Regions from separate parts of the Homo sapiens genome. Here region 1 is linked to region 2. Evidence: fine-mapped expression QTL. A gene starts in region 2. The other region holds a variant in brackets. All regions are shown on one strand. Distances are between the middles of the regions.

What was found.
Region 1: its variant is fine-mapped to the expression of KLHL38 in fibroblasts (GTEx, PIP 0.99).

The regions. Positions count from the first base shown.
Region 1 is chr8:123,676,917-123,685,253 of GRCh38, reverse strand. It overlaps ANXA13 (annexin A13), which reads left to right. Exons shown (of 11, transcript NM_004306.4): 10 at 532-644; 11 at 3,895-4,460. The coding sequence ends at 4,014. Among named protein-coding and RNA genes, the nearest start is that of KLHL38, 27 kb to the right of the region's middle. The variant G/A (reference allele first, on the strand shown) is at 4,050.
Region 2 is chr8:123,649,870-123,658,206 of GRCh38, reverse strand. It overlaps KLHL38 (kelch like family member 38), which reads left to right and starts at 4,406. Exons shown (of 4, transcript NM_001081675.3): 1 at 4,406-4,621; 2 at 5,280-6,630. The coding sequence starts at 5,281. It overlaps LOC105375738 (a long non-coding RNA gene), which reads right to left and starts at 269. Exons shown (of 4, transcript XR_928606.3): 1 at 98-269.

The DNA of each region.
Region 1 (8,337 bases), 27 kb before region 2:
TGCAAACCAAAAGATCGTGGGGAACCTGGAAAAGGTTCAGAGATGAGGCTTGCAAAACAACCCCAGTGAGGAAAAACAAAGAGTAGGGAGGTTGTTGAGCATAGGAGAGCAGGCGGCTGTCCAACTGGATACATTGTCAAGATGATGAAGTTTTGTTCCAGAAGGTTGCTGGCCAATCTGTTTCCCTTCAGAACCCTAGGACAGCACCAGAGATTTCACTCGATAGGGAAAGTTATTTCTGCTGGGAAATAACGAGAATCATGGACGTGGCCGGGAGGGCCCGAGGATGCCACAGCTCTCCTCTAGAGGGTCTTCAGGGGACAGGAGGGGAGCTATGCTTGAAGATTCCAGGTGCTCTGACCAGGGAATCTTCCAAATCTCATTTCGCAACGGTGTCAAGTCAGCTCTTTTCACACCTCTGTCTCACCATCCAGTCAGCTCGAAGGGCAGCCAGGTGACATTTAGGGGGGTCCCAAGGTCATTCCACAAAACGTGAAAGCCTCACATTCTCTTTTCCTTTGTCCTGCCCAGTGAGATGTGCCCAGGATTGTGAGGACTATTTTGCTGAACGTCTGTACAAGTCGATGAAGGGTGCGGGGACCGATGAGGAGACGTTGATTCGCATAGTCGTGACCAGGGCCGAGGTAAGACACACTCCGACTCCAAAGAGGCGGCTGCAACTTCTCTTTTTTCCACCACTGATGTCATCAACAAATAGTTTCTATTAAGGGCCTATTTACAGAAAAAGTAAAACAGAGACGGCCCCTTGCCTTCCCAGAATTTGCAGAAGACATTGTGCTCTGCTTCAATCTGTTTCTTTTTATAAAAATACAATAATGATCGTTGCTTCTTTTTTTGTCCTCTGTGGCTCTGGAGAGCTAGTGGAGGGGCGCAGAGGCAACCATGTCGAGCAGTTCTCAGGGGCTGCAGCTATGCATGGCTCCATGTTAAGGAAGACAAAACAAACACACTTGAAAGAGGTCAACCAGCAGCAGGAACAAAAAGAGAATGATTTCTGAATTCCTGAGTGAGGCCTTTCCTTAACTGAACACACTGCAGAAGCAAGCACATCAGCATAAGGCAATGGTTCTCAATCTTTTTAAAAACTATTGCTGTTCTAAGGAACCTTTTTAGACACGTGTTTCTTCATTGCCATCCCTTCCCCACAAGAAATGTTAACACCAGAGATAATACTACAAATCTGTTTATATACCATGTGGATATCAGTGCTTTATACATAAAAAAATTAAGGGCTTTTTCACCCCCTAAAAACCAATTTGTGCTTGCTCTCGGAGAATGTGTATGTATAAGAAAGAAAAGGGAGAGGAAGAGCCAACGGCTTGGGAGCAGCCGTCAAGATCACAGCTGGTCGGGTGCAATGGCTCATGCCTGTAATCCCAGCACTTTGGGAGGCCGAGGTGGGTGGATCGCCTGAGGTCAGGAGTTCGAGACCGGCCTGGCCAACATGGTGAAACCCCGTCACTACTAAAAATACAAAAATTAGCTGGGCATGGTGGCACACACTTGTAGTCCCAGCTACTCAGGAGGCTGAGGCATGAGAATTGCTTGAACCCAGAAGGTGGAGGTTGCAGTGAGCCAAGATGGTGCCACTACACTCCAGTCTGAGTAACAGAGCGAGACTCGGTCTCAAAAAAAAAAAAAAAAAAAAGGTCACAGCTAACAGTTCGGGATATGGGGCCACAGACAGAAGGTGGTACAAAATAAAGGGGAAGTGGCATTTCATCGGCAGCAGGAGAAGCCTTGGGGAATGAAGTGGAACTAAGCACTTGAAAACCACAGACATCTTCCCTCAAAAAAAAAAAAAAAAAGTGGTTAAATGAAGGGGGAGGTGAAGGGGGAGGGACACCAACCCAAATTCTGATCCATGGCTTCTTAACAAATAATGCTTAACATCTGACACTGTTTTTAAATATAACTTTGCAACAAGATGGTTCTTGCTTTTTTATTTCTATTCCTGGAATTTCTCCTCCCCTCCTTTCTCCTCCTCCACAACTCATCTTTTTCTATTGAAGGCCATGTCTCTCTCTCTCCCCTCTTTCCCTTTGCCAGTCTCTCTGCTCTGCTCCTGCCATGCCTCTGCCTCTCTCCTCCATGGCTCCAAATCCCTCTCCCTCCTTTCTCTCCAGGTCTTCTGCCTTGTCCGTCCCTCTGTCTGTTAGCAACTCGACCTCCAGCCAAAGTCACTGAGAGATGAGAGATCTTGAGGGACTCAAAAGGGACAGGTTGAACACAATGAAGACCCAGGATTCCAAATGACCCCCAGAGAGACTGGATCCATCCGAAGGGCTTGTGAGGGTTCCGTGATCACTCCGACATGGCCCACGGAGTGTTTTATTCCAAGAAGCTCTGTCCCATCTCAGAATCAACCACACGTCCTGGGCCATCTCAACATGTGGGCAGTTACCTCAGAAGGCTTCAGGCCTGGCTAGATATAGTAGTTTGGCCAGATTTCCTAATCTCCCAAAGCCACAGAACAGAGCCCTGTGCACCCCATCCCTACCCACCCTCCACCTTCCTGCCCGTGTCCCAGCACGGGGCAAGGAGCCAAGCAGCGGAGCAGGGGGACACACAGGCTGGGGGAGAGACAGACACCACCTGTCTCCTGTAGTGTCTGCCACCTGCTCCACATCCACTGCAAACCCTCCCTCACTCCCCCACATACTCCCATCCTGATCATTTCTCTCACTGTCTCAGCTCAGCCCTCTCACTGGGGCAAGAGAAGAAAGAATCAGATCCCTGAGCCACACTTTTTGGGTCTGGAGTACAAGGTAGGGTCTAAGCCAAAAAAGAAAAGAAAAGAAAGACTCCTGGTTAAAAAGAGTTCTCTGCTTCTTTTATGAGATCCATTATGTTCTACCTGGAATTACATCTTTTCTGGTACAAGTATCGTCTCCTTTGCTAGGCTGTAAGAATCTTCTGGCAGAGCAATCTTTGGATTTATTTTTCTCCTGAGTCCTATCATCACTTCTAGCACCTGGGTTTTTCAAGCTTCCAATAAATTAGATTCAAAATAAATCCTACAAGTTGCTAGTGATTTGAGTTGTGTTGACTGGTACTAATATCCTTGCTAATCATGGTATGAGGGAAAAACTGCTTAATTGCTTAATTCCACATCTCTGTGTTGACAATTTTCTTAGTTTTATACCAGGGGTCAACCAACTACAGCCTGCAGGCCAATTCAGGCTCACTGCCAGGTTGTGTACAGTCCTGCTAGCTTAGGGCAATTCATTTTCAAATAACTGTTAAAACTCAAAAGAAAGATAATACTTTGTAACATGTAAAAACTGTATGAAATTCAAGAGTTTTAGGGCCAGGCACGGTGGCTCACGCCTGTAATCCCAGCACTTCGGGAGCTGAGGTGGGTGGATCACCTGAGGTCACGAGTTCGAGACCAGTCTGGCCAACATGATGAAACCCCCGTCTCTACTAAAAATACAGAAAAAAATTAGCCAGGCATGGTGGTTGACTGTAATCCCAGCTACTTGGGGGGCTGAGGCAGGACAATTGCTTGAACCCAGGAGGCGGAGATTGCAGTGAGCCGAGACTGCACCATTGCACTCCAGCCTCGGCAACAAGAGCAAAGCTCTGTCTCAAAAAAAAAAAAAAAAAAAAAGAAATTCAAGAGTTTTAGTGGAACACACACACACGTGGACACCTCTGCAACCTTTGGGGAATTGACCTCTGCCTTCCCTTTCCTGATCACAAAATTGAAATAACGTGATAAAGGAAATAATGATAGGAAATAAAGCCCTATCTCAAGGGCTGTTTTAAGGCATGAATGAGCAAATGAGTATAACATGTGTAGAACAGTGCCCACTGTTTGTGAACACACCATAAACGTTCTTATCTCCATTGCTGTTATTTTTTCTACAGGTGGACCTTCAGGGGATCAAAGCAAAGTTCCAAGAGAAGTATCAGAAGTCTCTCTCTGACATGGTTCGCTCAGATACCTCCGGGGACTTCCGGAAACTGCTAGTAGCCCTCTTGCACTGAGCCAAGCCAGGGCAATAGGAACACAGGGTGGAACC[G/A]CCTTTGTCAAGAGCACATTCCAAATCAAACTTGCAAATGAGACTCCCGCACGAAAACCCTTAAGAGTCCCGGATTACTTTCTTGGCAGCTTAAGTGGCGCAGCCAGGCCAAGCTGTGTAAGTTAAGGGCAGTAACGTTAAGATGCGTGGGCAGGGCACCTTGAACTCTGGCTTAGCAAGCATCTAGGCTGCCTCTTCACTTTCTTTTAGCATGGTAACTGGATGTTTTCTAAACACTAATGAAATCAGCAGTTGATGAAAAAACTATGCATTTGTAATGGCACATTTAGAAGGATATGCATCACACAAGTAAGGTACAGGAAAGACAAAATTAAACAATTTATTAATTTTCCTTCTGTGTGTTCAATTTGAAAGCCTCATTGTTAATTAAAGTTGTGGATTATGCCTCTATCAGCTGCTTTTCCAAAGATTGTCTTGATAAGTTTGGGCTCTTCTCTGGGAAATGTATGACTTGTGAAATTCAAACCTACATTTTTTAGTGGTCACTAATCAAGGCTAGTCATAAGGAAACAATTCACTTGCTTTTGTAAACTGTAACTAAGGGTAAAATTCCCTAATCTGCTACCTGGTTTAACTGGGTTTTCTTCTCTAGACATTTGACCCACTTGAGTCTTCCCTCTGATCTTCAAATACAATTAAGCTGAGCAAAGTGCCAACAAGATCAAGATCAATGGTCTACCTCTGAAGTGAATTGGTTCCACACCAATAGATTCTGTGTTCCAAAACTTTAGTCTCATAGCCACGTGTTGCTAGACATAGAGGGATCTGTCAAGAGAACCTGGACACTTTGGCCCAATAATCATAGTTGTCATTCATTGGCTGATTATTTGTGCCTGACACTGAGTAGTCCAATTTCATTCTTAATCCTCCCCACAGCTCTATGTGGTTAATATTACTCCCAATTATCAGTTGAGGAAACTGACACATTAAGTAACCTATCTAAATTCATTTACAAGTGCTGTTTTCACACTGCTATAATTACCGGTAAAAAATTACCAAGACTGGGTAATTTATAAAGAAAAGAGGTTTAAGTGACTCACAGTTCCGCAGGGCTGGGGAGGCCTCAGGAAACTTACAATCATGGTGGAAGGGGAGGAGGCACGTCTTATGTGGCAGCAGGAAAGAAAGAGTGGTGAGCGAAGCGGAAAGAGCCCCTTATAAAACCATCAGATCTCATGAGAACTCCCTCACTGTGACGAGAACAGCATGGGGGACACAGACCCCATGATCTAATCACTCCCACCAGGTCTTTCCTGGGGATTACAATTGACACATGAGGATTACAATTTGTGATGAGATTTGGGTGGTGACATAGAGCCAAACCATGTCAACTAGCATTTCAATCCAGGGCTGGCTGACACCAGGAATCATGCTACTAACTGCCTTAATTGGAAAAATCAGTTGAAGTACATGGGAATGGGTCTGTATTCATTCATCTGCTTAGTTCCCTACTATCTGCCAATCACTGTGGTGTGCTCTGAGGATACAAAGACAAGTAGAACACTGACTCCCCTTGGGGCAGTTCATTCCCAGGTCAATAATGTCTCTTTTATTCAATAGAATGCTGTAAGTGCATTAATAAGAGCAGTATATTTGTTCATTTTCACACTGTTCATTTTCACACTGCAGTAAAGAACTACCTGAGACTGGGTAATTTATAAAGAAAACGGGTTTAATTGACTCACATTTCCACCTGGCTGGGGAGGTCTCAGGAAACTTACAATCATGGCAAAAGGTAAAGGGGAAGCAAAGCACGTGTTACATGGTGGCAGGAGAGATGGGGGAGGGGAAGTGCCACACTTTTAAACCATCAGATCTTGTGAGAACTCACTCACTATCATAAGAACAGCATGGGGGAAACTCCCCCCATGATCTAATCACCTCCCAGCAGGTCCCTCCCTCGACACATGGGGATTACAATTCAAGATGAGATTTGGATGGGGACACAGAGCCAAACCATATCAAGCAGGTAAAGGGCTCTACCTATGAGTAAGAAGAGAGAACACACAGCTCTGCATGGGGAACTGGGGAACACTTCCCAGAGATGCATTTGTGCTGGGTTTTAAAGAATGCATAGAAGCTCTCCAGAAAAATAAAAGAAGAAGGGCACAAGCAGAGGCTGGAGAAGCCTGAGTGGGCAGGGTGTGTTCAGGGAGAGGTGAAATCCATTCTCCTGGGGCACAGATGTGTGGAAAGAAAGGAATGGCCCTGGCAGGCAGGCAAAGCAGCTGTGAAAATAGGTTTGAACCACATCAGCCATGGTTCTGCCTGCCAAGCATGAGTTTGGTCCTCTGGGCAACAGCAGTCATTGGAGATGTTTAAGCGAAGAACATGATCACATCTGGGCTTTGGGAAATCACTTTAGTGGCTGCTAGACATAGAGGGATCTGTCAACAGAACCTGAACACCTTGGTCCAATAATCATAGTTATCCTTCATTGGCTGATTATTTGTGCCTGACACTACTAAGTAGCACAATCTCATTCACACCATTTGGGGTGTGATCAACATATAACAAACAGCCCAATCAGTTAAGGATAGATGCCATAATTGTCTTTTTAGTTGCTACAAAACAGTGATGGACATATTAAGAAGTTATGTTAACATCAGTGTCTTCCACATCCTGGTTTATCTACTTAATAGTCATTGCCATCATTATAAACTTTAATACATAAAAAATTATTTTCTAGAACCAAGCTCAGTGACAAAACGTATTTGTATTTACCTATTTGTTGCCAAAGCTGGTCTTTGCTTTTATAACCAGAAACAAAACAACCAGTTTTTGGGATCTGAGCTCATGGTAAGGACAGAAAAACAAATCAATGGACTGAAAAGAGATCTATTAAAAACAGACACAATTTGAGATTGTTGATGGCCATAATTCACACAGAGACAAGCAAGAAGATATTTTACAGGTGGAGAAACTGAGGCTGATAAGATGGAGAAGCCAGGTCATTTACTCAAGATCACCCACATAAAGTACCAGGGCCAGAATTCAACCCAAGTCCTTCTGCCTCTAATGCCCGTGCTCTTCGCCAGACTAGCTCATGGTCCATGAGTGCTTTTGTCTAAAATTTTGCTGAGTGAGACATCAAGGTTCCTTTCTGTGGCTGCTCAATATTGCTCATCACTTGCAAGCTGGAGCCAGTTTCTAGGTATTCGCCTAGGGTCTGGTCTGCCCCAGGTATGCCCCTCTGTGAGAGAGGTATGCCTCTCTCACAGAGGCAACTCAGGAATGTCTTCTTTTTTCCCTTCCACACACCCCTGCCCTGCCCAGGTCCCTCTGACTTCTCCCTGTGCCCCCAGCCCGCCTGCCTGCAGAGAGAGGGAATGGGGAGGATAAAAATAGAAAGAAGGGAGAGAGGAGAGCATCACCATCTTGACATCTCCCCACTGCACAGCCCTGTTCCTCATACTAGCCCCTTCCTCTAGGGCCACTAAAGGAATGCCAGCTCCTGCCACCCAGATGCTTAGATAGGTAGGGGGCTCCAAACCCCACCTCCAGGGATGCACAGAGGAGAGCATATTCTGCCAAGGTATGCCATTCCCCATGGAATTCTGTGCCAGGCCCTGACTGTGCTCCACACTATTTCTCACTCACAGTGAGTCACCTGGGTTTTGTGGGTGAATAGATTCTGGGGAGCTGGTCTGGGTGAACCATAGAAGAAGCTGAAAGTCCTCCCACCCCACCCCAGGAGCCAAGGGTGTCCCATGACTTACTGTGGGAGCTTCAGCCCTCCATAGATCCCTCTCAGCAGTGCCAGGGCTTCCACGTGGCTCCCCCATACAGGCCCACCCCTCAAATGTGTGGGTCCAGCCCATTTCTTCAGCTTCTGCGTCTGTCCTGAACTGGGAGGGACCTATGAGGACAGCTTGGCCCACCCAGCCAACTTCTTTCCACAACCTGCTATGGACCTTGGGAAGAGACCCGCAGCAACCCTGGAAGCTCAGGGCTCAGCTCAGGGCTCAGGGCAGGGCATTTTGAAGTCTCAGGAGCTAGGTCAAGAAAAGGGTGTCCAAGCCACAAGTGGGTGTGTCTCCTGGACCCCAAGGACTTCCCAGCCCACAGGGAGGGGCACAGCAGCTGAAGGCAGGGAGGCATCCTCCAGAGTGGGCCAGGGCGGGACACCAGGGTCCAGGGTGGGACATTGCTCCCATGAGCCCCTTGGAGTGGCACTGGCCACTCACGTTCTTAGTCTTCTCTGGCCTCTAACTCTCCTATTTCTTCTGCTCAGGTTGCTGGGACCCTACATGGGCCTCAATCACAT
Region 2 (8,337 bases):
ACAGGCTCTCACGTATACTTAAAAACATTTAAAATCTTATATCAAGACCCAGGTTTCTTCCTACAGCTTATAATGATTCAGTTAATTGCAACCTTACCTGTCTGCTCCTCATGTTTCTCTCCACCTGTAAGAACAGGAGATTCTCTGATGCTAGCAGGGGACAGCCTTCCAGAGAGACCGCAGCACCACAGGGGCCTTTATGTGCATGTTTGTCCATCCTTGAAACACAGCAATCACCATAGCTATGGTTCCTAATTAGAGTGAGGGGACTTCTCCTGGAAGGAGCAGATGGGGAGCACGGCCCCGAGTGGGTTGAGAGGACTGAGGGTAGGGTTGTGGCAGAGAGTGTTTTGTGGCTTCCCAGCTGTTGTTGTCAAACCTGCTGCTGACAGGAGCCAGCCTGCCCTTTCCTTGGGGACCCAGACCCCGCACACCCAGATAGGAAAGAAACCAAGGCCTCCTGAGTCAAAGTGCCCACCATGGCAATCCAAAACTCCAGGAGGGAAAATGAAGGCTTTCTGGATTGACTTACAAGGGCAAACTCATCAAGGGCACCTGCTGGGAGCTCGACTTAGGTTTCTTCTCTGCACTTGGCTTCAGGCGAGAGCCGTGAGGAAGCTCTGAAGAGCCCTCATCCCTCAGTCTCAGTTTCTCCCAGTCCCTGTTCTAGGCCACAGATTGCAGAGAACACCTCAGGGTACAAACCACAGGAAGGTGATCTAGAAGGGCCAGGTGAGGAAATAAGTGCAGAGAGGTTAATTGACTCATCCAAAGATGCACAGCTAGTCGATAGCAGAGCCCAGACTGAATGCCAGGACTCCTGGAGGCTAAGTAGATCATGAGGAACACAGCAATTGCTCAAGGAAAAGGAAAATGCTAGAATGCACAGGGGACCAATTGAGACACTGAAAACCAGGCACCAAGACCCATTGGAATCTAATGAGATTAATTTTAGAGTAATAATATCATACTGACCATACTTTACTATGAATATACACTGTGCCAGGCACTTTACTGCATACTGCACATACATTATTTCACTGTGACAAGGATGGTTATCCCCACTTAACAGATGGAGAAACTGAGGCTGGAGGAGTATAAATAACTTACCCAAGACCACATGAATACTGAGGGGAAATGCCAAGATTATCCCCAGCCCTTCTGCCCCCAAAGTTCAGGCCTTGACTTGTTATGATACTGACTTTCATCAAAAGGAGGGCCGTGATTCATGCCTGTAATCCCAGCACTTTGGGAGGCCAAGGTGGGTGAATCTCTTGGGCCCAGCAGTTCAAGACCAGCCTGGGCAACATAGCAAAACCCTGTCTCTACAAAAAACACAAAAAATAGATGGATGTGGTGGCTCATGCCTTTAGTCTCAGCTTCTCAGGAGGCTGAGGTGGGAGGATCACTCGAGCCTCGGAGTTGGAGGCTACAGTGAGCCATAATCATGCCACTGCACTCCAGCCTGGGCCACAGAGTGAGACCCTGTCTCAGAAGAAACAAAAAAAGGAGAAACAATGAGCTGAATGTCCTCATTGATGTCATTTCTTTTAGGTTGCCATATGTTCAGGCCCTAGACTAAGACATCTTCTAGATGAAAGTTAAGACAAAAAGTATAAACCTCCCTGAGAGAAGTCAACTCATGAATGGGCTGGTTGGGCTACATGTGGGTGGTAGAGATGCTTTTTGGGGTCAAGCTTGGGCTTATATGTGTGTGTTTGCCATGTTGAACACTAAGACTCTGTGTCTTGACATTTGACATCTGACCTAGAACCAGGATCCTCCTGGTAGGCCAGGCCAACAAAACAGGGCCTATTTTTTCTAAACATTAGAAACCAAAAGATTTAGTAAAGTTGGTCAGACATTGATGCTGCACACCAAGGTCTATCTGAACAATTGACAGAGCTGGATTCCAGAAAGTTTAATTAGTAAGGGGATGTAGGGGAAAATCCAACATCCTTCCCAGGGAACGGTGCTGTGTTAATTCACTCCTAGGATCCCCTACCTATTACCCTCAGAATAAATCCTTGGCTTGCTTGCTGCCTGGAAGAGAAATCATGCAGGTGTTTCAGAGCATTAAGGAAGTTATTTCTTCCTCATGTTCACTCCGAGGTCAAGGACAAGAATGCTAGCTTTGGCGTTGGGAGGACCTCAGTTCAGTTCCCAGCCTGAACTTAAGTCTTGCACTGCAGTATAAAACAAGTGTTTTACTTTTCACTTCATCACATTATTGGATTTGATTATGTGGATAATCAGGGCTGCTCCAGAGCATATTTGCAGGGCAGTCTACGCAGTAAGCCATACATGGCAGCTCTGCAAAACCGGCACAGCAGACAGTGGTGTGAAGTCCACCCAGCAAAGCTCCCTCTCTTTCCCCATTCCCCATTCTGTTCCAGCTCAATGCAGGAAGTGTATGAAATTCACCCCCTATAAGCCAGGCCCTGTGCTGGGTGCTAGGAGTAGAGCTACAATGAAGTCAAGATTCCTGCTGCCCAGAGACTTCCACTCTAATAAGAGAGACACAGGGAAGTAAACATAATCTCAGTGAGGTATGAGGCATGCCATTAGAGGCATGTAGAAGAATGGAAACTGCACAGAGGAGTGTGAAGTTAAGTGTCTTAGAGAGGGGTAAAAAGACTTGCAGAGAAGTGATACATAAACCAAGTTTTGGAAGACGAACAGAAACAGTGAAAATGATAGAGTGAGCAGAGGGGAAGAGCTCATAGAAAGGGATAGAGTACGAATCAGAGGATCCCTGGGCTCTTTCAGGAATGTGGCTACTCACTTATTATGTCACCAGCACAGCTCACCAACTCGGACATATGGAGGAACAGCTCCTCTCACCTGCTCCCTGCTTGTGCCTCCATGGGTCTCTGACCCCCTTAGCTTAGGCCTCCTGCTCCTAATTCTGGCCTCCAGGCCCATGGCCCCAGTAACATGTTTTGGATCCATTTCCCTGGCCTTGACCTTCTGGACTCTTTTGGGCATAATCCACTCTACGATCGGCAACTGTGAATGAGAAACCCTCTTCCTTCCACCCTGCCCTGTGGTGTCCCAAAGGCCAGGCCAGCCCAGCTTCCCCAACAGTGACCAGATGCATACAAGGATCTGTAAGTGTCTCATGGAGCTAGATTACCACACATGAGTGGCAGTAGACATGGTTCCAGAAGCAGACAGGACACCAGTCCGATTCTGGCTAAGGAGTCCTGCAGACATGGGGAGCCACTGAAGGGCCTGATGCTGGGGACTGGCAAATTCTGAGTTGCCTTCCCAGGGGCTGCTCCAGAGAAGACAGGGTGGATGTATTGGAGAGAGAAGTACTAGGAGCAAAGAAAAAAAAATGCATGGAAGACCATTGCACTAGTTGAGCAAGACGTTGAGTAGGAGACAAAGTCAGGCTTCCCTGCCTTTTGTGGCTAAGACAATCATGGACCTCCCTGAAGGCAGGGGCAGAACAGACCTGAGGTCCCCCTCACTCTCTCTCGTGATTCTGATTGTTATTGAAAGCTGCCTCCTACCACATCACTATCATCATTCCTCCCCCGATTCTCTACCTCCTGCTTCTTTTCCTCCTCCTCCTATTCCTCCTCCTCTTCTTCCTCCTCTCGTCTCTCTCCCTCCCTCTGTCCCTGCTTCTTCTTCCTCCTCATCCTCCTTCATCTTCTTTCTCTCTCTCCCTAAAGCAATATGCCTTGCCTCCTGCCTCTAGCTCAAGCTGCCAGACAAGACAAAATGGAAAAGTAAGACAGAAAAGGAAGTCTGAACTATAAAAAGCCAGCTGAAGAGCAATCAGCACGTGTCTGGGAGAGGCAGACGCGACAGGAGGAGCTCGGCCTTACCACTGTCAATCAGAGGTTCCTGAGTAAGGAGACCTGACAAAGGTTTGGGCCTTCAGGAGTCTGGAAACCCTGGGATGCTCAACAACAACAACAACAAAAAACAACAACTTTTGTCATGGATTTCATCACCTAGGATCCTGGAGGAGGAAATCACAGCTCTCCCCAGCGATCCCGCCAGGCAGATGGTGGGAAATAGAGATCCATTGAATAGCACCCACAGGCTCATGTTCCGGCTTCCCTTGTGACCACCTGCCACCTCCACTGTGGCCCAGAACCATCTTCAGTGACTCTCCACAGGTCACAGCAACCTGTTTACAGACGGCTAGAATTCCCAAGCACTTTTAGGACAGGGGACTCGGGATGGTTCCAAGCAGACAGCAAAGTCTTCTCTAAGAGAAGCCGCTCCTCCCGATCTATTTTTGCCGATGTAAACACTTGCCAAGGAAACGAGGCATGTGGGCATGCGCCGGCCCTGCAGGCCCTCGGGTTGCTGCAAAAGGCAACTGGAAAGTCACATGTCATAACAGTGGAAAGTACATATGCAACTATTCTTAGCCCTGGAATGTATACACTGTCTCCCTGCCCAGCAGTCCTTGCACAAAGCTCTAGAAAACTATGAAAGTGCCTTCAGCATAAACAAATCCAGAAATCTCCCAGGACAAATCATTTGCCAACTGAAAGAAAGGCCTGGGGTTTATGGTTTCCCTTGGAGCTAGAGGTAGAAACTCTCCGGGGGGATAAGTCAGACCAGGCACCAGTGGATGTCACCGCAGCAAAACAAGGTAAGTGTCCCTCATACTTATTTCTTCTGCAAGTAGAAAACCAGGTGTCATCCAATAAACCAGGGGATTGTTTGGTCTTTCCTTTTATTTATTCTATCTTTAAAACAAGACTCAATGAAGTCATATTTAAATATATGCATCAAAGGTCCATTTTCTTCCCTCATTTCTGTCCAGTGACCAGAGGGCCACACCTCCAGAATATCATCCTTGGGGAATGATTGACACCCAGAAAGAGAGGTTTAGACATCTGTTACTCAATAACAGATATGCCATCGATCTGGAAAAAGGCTCATGAACTTCTGCTGGTCAAATCCATGGACTGTTATCTTGCTTCAGACTAACATTTCAGCTTCTGATAACAGAGTAACTTCCAACAACTTTAGTTTGTTTGTTTGGTTGTTTCTCTCAGATTAGCTGAAGATACTATTTGCCTATTACTTTTGAAAATAACCATAACCCAAAAGGGCTCAGGTCTGAGATGTATGTGGCCTTCCTTTCCAATCTTCCCTACACAATATCCATGGTGACATCCGCAAACATCATGGGGAATGGAATAGGAGCACTGGTCTTGGAGTCCCCACAGCTGAACCCTCCAGCACATGCAGCTGAGAAAGGTTTGACTCTTGCTGACTCTGGGGGCTTCCTTCCCTCTTTGTAGGATGGACGAGGAGTCACTAGATGGGCTGCTCTTCAAAGACCACGACTTCTCTTCTGACTTGTTGAGGCAGCTCAACAGCTTAAGGCAAAGCAGGATCCTGACTGATGTGAGCATCTGTGCCGGTGCCCGGGAGATCCCCTGCCACCGCAACGTGCTGGCCTCCAGCAGCCCCTACTTCAGGGCTATGTTCTGCAGCAGCTTCCGGGAGAAGAGTGAAGCCAAAGTGCAGCTGAAAGGCATTGACCCCCCAACCCTGGACCAGATCGTCTCCTACGTGTATACGGGGGAGGCACATATTGCCACTGACAATGTCCTCCCCGTGATGGAGGCCGCCTCCATGCTACAGTTCCCCAAGCTGTTTGAGGCCTGCTCCTCGTACTTGCAGAGCCAGTTGGCCCCCAGCAACTGCCTGGGTATGATCAGACTCTCAGAAATCTTAAGCTGCGAGACCCTCAAGAAGAAAGCCAGGGAGGTGGCACTGACGTCCTTCCCAGAGGTGGCCGCATCGGCCGACCTGAAGGAGCTCTGTGCCTTGGAGTTGAGGGACTATCTCGGAGATGATGGGCTCTGTGGGGAGGAGGAAAAGGTGTTTGAGGCCCTCATGGTTTGGATCAAGCATGACCTCCAGGCCCGGAAGCGATACATGCAGGAACTGTTCAAGCAGGTCAGGCTGCAGTACATCCACCCAGCCTTCTTTCACCACTTCATCGCCAACGATGCCCTCCTGCAGTCCTCGCCTGCATGCCAGATCATCTTGGAGACCGCCAAGAGACAGATGTTCTCTTTGTGTGGCACCACCGTCCCAGACTGCAAACTCCTGTTGCATGTCCCTCCAAGAAACTCTTACCAAGATTTCCTCATCCTCTTGGGCGGAAGGAAGGACAGCCAGCAGACCACCAGGGACGTCCTACTGTACAGCAAACAGACCGGCCAATGGCAGAGCCTTGCCAAACTCCCGACACGGCTGTACAAGGCCTCTGCCATCACCTTGCACCGCAGCATCTATGTGCTGGGGGGCATGGCTGTCAGCTCAGGGAGGAGTCTGGTCAGTCACAATGTCTACATCTTCTCCCTGAAACTCAATCAGTGGAGGCTGGGGGAGCCCATGCTGGTGGCCCGCTACTCCCACAGAAGCACTGCCCATAAGAACTTCATCTTCTCCATCGGGGGGATTGGAGAAGGGCAGGAGCTCATGGGCTCCATGGAAAGGTATGACAGCATCTGCAATGTCTGGGAGAGTATGGCCAGCATGCCCGTGGGGGTGCTCCACCCCGCAGTCGCTGTGAAAGACCAAAGACTCTATCTCTTTGGAGGAGAGGACATCATGCAGAACCCTGTGCGCCTTATCCAGGTAAATGGCCGGTTCTTCCCATCACGTAACTGCATGAGTATGTGTGCTTGGACACACCCACACCTGCTTGCACACACATGCACATGTATACATACACACCAAAAAACACATATATGCACATAAATATATATATGCACACATATACACAAACACACATATGCATACATGCGTGCACACATATATGCAGAAATGTATATTCATGCATACATGCATACACATATGCACACATATATGCAGATGCCAACATGCATACGTGTGCACATGCATACACATATACAATTCATGCATGCATACACACATTTACATATATCTACACATGCATGCACACATTTATACATATGCACGAACACAAATACGTACATGCATACATGCACACACATGTGCACCCATGTACACACATACCAACACTTGTTATTTGCAAGGAAGGAAGAGAGGAAGGGAGGGAGGGAAGAAGGATTTTCAGCAAGATATTTTTCAATTTATGAATTTTTTTGTGCAAAAATAATACATAACAAAGGATATCAAATACCATCCCTATGCACAGAGTTTATCTTCATTTGATGAGAAAAATATATATCTAAAAATTCAAGTTATTATACAGCATATTGAAAGTCAGATAGTGAAGTCCCATAGGAATTTGGCAGGTGCTTCTAACTCAAGTCAGTAAGGCCTTAAAAGAAGATTCCCAAGCCTTGGTCCACACCTCTGTGACCAAATCCCCTGGAACCTGACCTCACATCACTGAATCAAAATATCTTTGTGTGAGATCCTAAAATGTATGGTTTACAAAAGTCCCCAGGAGACTCTAAGTTGCAGCCAGGTTGGGAAACCCCTACTTTTAATGATCGGCAGACATTAATTTCACTAACAAGCTGTCTGAGAAGTATGCTCAATAAAGGCCACATTTCAGAATATTAAGTGTTTTCCAGCTTTATGCAAGTTCCTGGTAATCTCTGCAGAACGTGAATATTGAGCCTGCCTTTACAGACAATCAGAAGCATCCACGAGATGTACTTTGCTCATCTATGAGAGTTATGTTGAACATCAACCATTGTGAAGGGCCTGGAGACCCAGCAATTTACACATAACCCTCAGTTGCAATTCAGACGCTGAAGAGAGGGGTGCTCTAAGAGCACAGGCGGGATGCCCTAAACCAGTCTAGAGCAAGCTTGCCCAACACGCATACAGCCCAAGACAGCTTTGAATGCGGCCCAACACAAATTCATAAACTTTAAAACATGATGAGATTTTTTTTAGCGATTTTTTTTAGCTCATCAGCTATCATTTGTGTTAGTGTGCTTTATGTGTGACCCAAGACAACTCTCCTTCCAATGTGGCCCAGGGAAGCCAAAAGATTGGACACCGCTGGTCCAGAGAGAATCAGAGAGAGTGCCAGGGTTAAGGGAATGTTGGAGCAAACCCTGTGAAGTTGGCTGAAGCTGACTTGAGCAGAGGGGCAGGAGAGGAGAGAGGAAGGTGGGGATGGAGAATAAAAGAGGAGGGGGAGGGGTGGGGTGGGTGCTAAGAAAGCATGTAAGGGAAGATCCGACTTAGAGGGAGATGCAGGAAGCTCCTGCACCTCCTGAAGCCGGAGTCAGAGTTCTCTCTTGAGGGAGGGGGAGTGGTCCTGGGTAAGGGAGCAGCTCACATGAAGGCCCTGAAGCACAAACAGGTGCAGCCCATGGCCCTGGGCAGCGGAAAGCAGGA